Linked DNA regions of Homo sapiens: region 2 is linked to region 1. The links come from fine-mapping of genetic effects on gene expression. A gene starts in region 1. The other region holds a variant in brackets. All regions are shown on one strand. Distances are between the middles of the regions.

Region 1 (2,904 bases):
ACAAAAAACAAACATCTTCCAGGATTTCCCCAGACGGGGCCTTACGCGGGATCGATGTGCCTCTCACCTAGCCCAGACAAGGCAGGGGCTCCCCAGGAGATATTTTAAATAGTCAAGGTGCTCACTGATTATCAGTGGCCAAAGCCCCGCCACCCACCGTAACCAAGGCAACAGGAGGCAGGTGCTGCGACTGGTTGCCTGGTAAGCATGCTAGTGCCAAGTCCTTTCCCTTCCTTCTCCACCTCCGTTAGCCCTTTTGTGATAGCGCCTCTCCCTCCGCTATCTTTCCCCTTCTTGGCCAAACAATAATCTTTGCTCCTCATACAAAGGTCACTTTGGGCTCCTTTGGGTAAAAAAACGCGTACCTTGATGTTCTTTTTGAACAGATTTCATCCACGCTTGAGTTTTGAGACCTAGATAAAATGTGCTTCTTACCTCGGCTTCAATATCTTCTCCCTCCACCCCACTCTTTCCCTTTCACTCACTCCTATTAAGGCATACAGAGAGCGCGGGGAGGAAGGAAGGAAGGGAAAAAGGAAGGGGGAGAGAGCGAGAGGGAGCACGGGGGAGCGCAGGATTTAAATGTGGCGATTTTTCACGGAACACCAGAGCCTGGGGCTCACAGTAGATCCTCTGTCCCGCTTGCCCCTTTGCTCACCGCCTGCAATCGTGCCTCTGCTCCCCGCACCACTGCCTAAATTTGGCGCCAAGTTTTTCCACTGGTCGTGGCCAGAGCGAGAGAGAATGCTCTCCTAGAATCCCACACCTAAATCCCTGGAGAAATGAGGAAGATGAGTCCCGCTTTCTTCCGCGAACCTGTGTCACCTCCTGACCTCCTCCGCGTGGGGTCTGAGGGGCCGCGAGCGCAAGTGGCGTGGGCTGGGAGGCCGAGCCGTGCGCAGGCACCGACCATGGGCACCCTAGGGCCGGGGCGCTGTCCAGCCTCTGGTGCTGAAGCTGCAGGCTCGGATTCGCTGGGGGAGGGGCTCCAGGGACCTTTAGCAGCCTGATTCTGAGCCGACTCCAAGCGGGTAGCGACTCGAAGGAGAGGCGCTTGGTCTGCCGAGTGGAAAGGCTACACTGGGAAGTAACGGCATTAGGCGCTCTCTTTCAGCAGATAGGGCTCTCCCAGGGCGCAATCCCCGGCGCCTCTGATTCCCCTCCCTGGAGTTATTTGCTGCAATTGCGGTGGGTAGGAAGAAAGGCCCTTTGCACTGGGGCGATTACCCAGTGGTCTCCTGGTACTTTTCACATTTTTTCCTGCGGCTCTGGGCTCTCTGGGTGCTGGCCAGCCTGGCGCTCAGATCTGGTGGCAGGCAAAGCAAAGAGGAGAGGCTTGGAACGCCGAACCCAGCTGCTCTTCTGCATGCAACAAGTCAGCTGCATCTAGAATCAGGGGCGAGAAGCGCGGGAGGAGGGGCGACGGCGGGCTTGGGGCGGCTGGGTTGCGAGAGCCGGCTCCCGCGAGGCTGTGGGGCCGTCTTTCTCCTACTGGGCGCGGGACCGAGCGAAACAAACTGCAAGCTGGGTTTCCGCGTCGCCCCGGGCAGGTACTGGAACCAGACGCCCCCACACCTCTAGCCTGCCCAGCATCCCGTAGGAGCGCTCACCTGCTGGGCTCCGGAGTCGCCTTCCTTCCTCTTCATTTTGGCAAGGCACATTTGGCGGGTGCCAAGCCTGGCCGCTCGCTTCTCCGGCCCTCCAGAGCAGCCTCAGGCTTAGCTTCCCGAATATCAGCTCCAGTTGGCTGCTTCTCCAGTCCCGAGCCCTTGACCTGGAGGAGGGGACGGGACCGGGGACCTCGGCTGGGATTTTTACCTGGCATGGGTCGCCGCGGCTAGGGAGGAAGACCACTTGCTCTCCGTTTCTTTCTGGAAGAAAGCCCCTCACCACCCAGCTGCCGGTACTTTGCTTCCCCCCAGGAGCCGCAGTGCAAGTAGCAGCGCAGTGCGGGGGAGGGGGTGGGGTTTGAGGAAGCTGTTTGTGAAGTGCCCCTTGAATACTTGCCTCTCTGAGGCCATCAGTCCTGTCCGGGTCCGTAGTCCTGGCATGGTCCGCCGGGTGCAAACACAGTCGCCGCGGCTGCCGGGCCAGAGGAGAACAGCTGCTTTAAAGCTGAGACCAACCCACGGGTGGCCTGTCAGGGCCACGGATGTTCATGACGTCATCCTGAAGGCGAGCGGAGAAAGCGAGTGGAGAGGGGGGAGCCGCGCTTCACATCAAATGTCCCCTGTGGCCATGGCAACAGCTTTGGGGGAGGGGGTGCCGGTCCGCGGGCCAGCAGCGGGCAGCCTGCGACTCCTGCCAGGGTCCAGCGCTCCGCTGGGGTAGAGTCCGTCATTAGTGCTGAATCCAGTTGTGCCCGGACCAGAAGAGACACCAGAGCCAGTCCCGTCCCCTCCCCGGGCTGGTCATAGCAGGTGGGTGGCTGCCTGGTCCCAGAGAAGAGGCTGGGGGAGACTGCAGGCGTCTGGAGACCAATTAGCAGAAATTTTTTTTTCACAGGGCCATTTCCTATTCTTCCACCACCTTACCTGGGCAGGTCAGACCCGGTTCACCTGACCGCTCACAGACGTATTCTCACTCACTCTCGACCGACGCATGCTGGAGCAGAGCACACCCAGGCAGCGCCCAAGCGGGACTCACCCACCTGCCCGGGTCCTCGCCTGCACACACGACAAACTGAGGCTTCAAAGCAGCCTTGAGAGCTTCAGAACATGACAAACCCACTACTGATCCAGTGCGCATCTAGGGGGCGCAAACTGGTGACCAACGAACCAGACAGGACACAAAAATGTTTGTGAGGCTCCCACAGTATTTTAAAAATTTGAAGTACTTGTCAAAAAGATTGGAAGAGTTCACAGAGAAATCTGGGTTTTCCATCTCTCTCTCCCTCTCTCTAAA
Region 2 (2,904 bases), 34 kb after region 1:
CACACTTGGCTAATTTTTTGTATTTTTAGTAGAGACGGGGTTTCACCATGTTGGCCAGCCTAGTCTCAAACTCCTGACATCAGGAGATCCACCTGCCTCGGCCTCCCAAAGTGCTGTGATTACAGGCGTGAGCCACTGCACACGGCCTATTTTTCTTCAAAAAACTTATTAATAGAAGGATAAGGAAGAGATAGCGAGAGAGACAGAGAGAACATGGATAAAGGACACTTAAGTGTAGAGCTTGATGGTGTTTTATAAATGTATAACCATCATCTGGGCCAGGATACAGAACATTTCCAGCAACCCCAGTTGTGTTTTTCTTAACACAAATCAGAACTCAATTGGAACAGCTAAACATATACATTAACGGGTCACGTGCTGCTAGATAGCGCCTAACAAGATCTGCTAACATAGGTACTGTGCTTTCTCCTCAAATGCTATGGTTTCCAGAGCCCAGAAGAGGGGATGAGGTGATTATACTGGAGATAAGATTCTGAAGCCCAGCATTTGAGATGATTAATGATCCCTGGGCTGCTGCTCCAATTTAGTCTGATATGAAGAGAAGAAAAAGCCGTGGTTAAATTCTCCCTGTTCCAGCCTCACTACTACATTGCTCTGTTATCTCAGTGAGGTCAGAATCAACCTGTGTTTAAACTCCAGGCAGCCTTAGCGGGGGCCCCCACCCCTGCTACATTGCTGCTAGGGAGCCATCTCTCAAAAAAATAAAGAAGGATTTCTGAAGTGTTACCTGAGGACCCAGAATGCTGCCTTGCAGCACCTGGGGCTTGGCGGTGGGGTGGCTGGGGGACACTCATTCTCCCCAGCAGGTGTCCTGGGACCCCTGCAGCCCACTGCCTTTGAGGAGGTGGGCAAAGAGGCCTGTGTGGCCCGGTCTAGAGGATAAAAGTGCCAGATGGCCGGGCAGGTGTTCCGGCTGACTTAACAACCTTATCAGATGCACTGTGGGGCCCAGCCCCCAGCAGATAGTAATGATTTGTGAAAGTGGCAGGGGAAGGCGTCCCCACTGCTCCCTTCCCTCTTCCTACCTCTTCAACTTGCCCCATGTTGGTGACAGGGCATCTAGTGGTTCACAGCAGCTGACTATCCCTCTGACCCATGCTAGGTTTCTGGCAGAGGTTGCTAGCCACATCCCTAAAAGGACCTTGGCTGTCTGTCTCCCAAGCTTGCCACTTATAGACTGGCAGGGGAATGGACTCTGGAAAGTCACCCCACTGGCTGGCCACAAGGACAGATTCCTGGGAGAGCTGCCCGGGTGATTGCCCTTACTGTGGTCACACTGAATGGCACTGACATTCCCAGGTACCTACACTCTTTTCTGGCCTCATGTGCTGGACCCAGGCCTCTAGCATTTTAGTTTTGTCACATCGGAGATGCTCAATGGGGTGGAGGAAAGACA[A/C]GAATAACTCTGGGTGGCCTCACCCATAGAAGAGGTGGCCAAACTTCATGCCTAATTACTGCGGGTATTGGTTACATATCGCAAATATCAACTTTTTATTCCAAATGCTCATCCTAGCCATCTTGAGACAGAGCTCAGCTGCTTTATAAATATACCTAAAATGATGTCTTTTTCCTGTATTCAGCCATTGAGGACTAGGAAGACTGGATGTCCCCAAGGCCCAGAATCTCCCCGGCACCCCTGTTCCCATAAAAGACAGAAAGGAGTTTCCAGGTCAAGATGTTACCCTGAACACATGTGGTTTCTTCCTGCCCCTCCCAAAATTGCATGGTAAAGGCATGGACATACAGAAGGAAGTGGACACATAGTGATGAGGAACACAGGAGGAGAGATCAGAAGGCAGAACGCCATCAGTAGTACTGAGCCAAAGTAGCTGAGTGCTCTCAATGCTGCAGAGGACATAGTTGTCACATCCCCAGAAAAGCTTCAAATTCAGAGCCCAATAAAAAGAGTGACCAGCTGCTCAGCATCTCTTCTAGGCAGAAGCATGAGATCTTGCCTGGGGACCAGGAGCGTGGACTCCTCGTGTGTTTGATGGTGCTCTAAAGCAGTGGCTCTCAAACTTGATCACACATTAGAATCCTCTGAAAGCTCCAAAATACCCCAAATCTATTAAATTAGACTATCTGGGGATGGGACCCAGGACCTAGTATTTTTAAAGCTCCTCAGTTGAGCCCACTGGGCAGCCAAGGTTGGGAACCACTGCCCTAGGGTGCATTCTTCTTTCAGGCATGAAGACAGGGTGAGTTAGCCTGTTCCCTGCCTGCCACACTTAAGAGAAGCCTGCTGGCCAATAAGAGGGGGCTCCTTGGCTGCACTTACTGCTGTCCTTCCCCAGCCTTGCTCTCCTCCCCTGGAAGCATGGGCCAGTCTGTGGGCTCTCTCACCTTCCTGACTCCACTCTTCTTGCCTGTCCTCCCACTGCTCCTGGAATGATCTTCCTAAGAACCAACTCTAATCCTATCACACCCTCACTTTTCACTACCTGCAGAGCAAGTCCTAGCATAGAGACTCTTCTAAAGATTCCTACATCTTTCTTTCTAACCTAATTCCCTTCCTCATCCTTATATTCCAGTCAATCTGAAGACAAGGGCTCCCCTTGTTTTTGCTTGTGTCTCCTTCCCTCACCCCACAGCCCTAGCATTTAGGCAGGTGACCTTCGCAGGGAAGATGTTCACATAAAGACCTTACTGAGCTGGATTGAGTTGAGCAGAACACAATGTCTCTGGGCTGCAGAATGAAGGAAACATAATTTGTTTTCACTGACAACGGCCATGAATGACCTTGTTTTGAGGGAGAAGGGAAATAACAAGCAGCTTGAAAACAACATTTTTCTAAACCTACCATTTTTTGCTGTTATTCATGTTTTAAATTTTACATTTTTTTTAATTTTTAAATTTATTTTTTAAAGACAGGGTCTTGCTCTG

Alleles and levels. Positions count from the first base shown, and alleles are read on the strand shown. Sizes are in standard deviations (SD) of each study's normalised expression.
As copies of A replace C in region 2, the expression in thyroid of the gene that starts at base 1,657 in region 1 goes down (moderate effect, 0.72 SD a copy in GTEx).

The links.
Region 2: its variant is fine-mapped to the expression of LINC01586 in thyroid (GTEx, PIP 0.95).

What each region holds. Positions count from the first base shown.
Region 1 is chr15:88,603,863-88,606,766 of GRCh38, reverse strand. It overlaps LINC01586 (long intergenic non-protein coding RNA 1586), which reads left to right and starts at 1,657. Exons shown (of 3, transcript NR_120370.1): 1 at 1,657-1,903. It also overlaps a transcript of AEN not described here. RefSeq lists a silencer at 540-977 and an enhancer at 1,691-2,397.
Region 2 is chr15:88,569,666-88,572,569 of GRCh38, reverse strand. No RefSeq gene overlaps it. Among named protein-coding and RNA genes, the nearest start is that of DET1, 24 kb to the right of the region's middle. The variant A/C (reference allele first, on the strand shown) is at 1,418.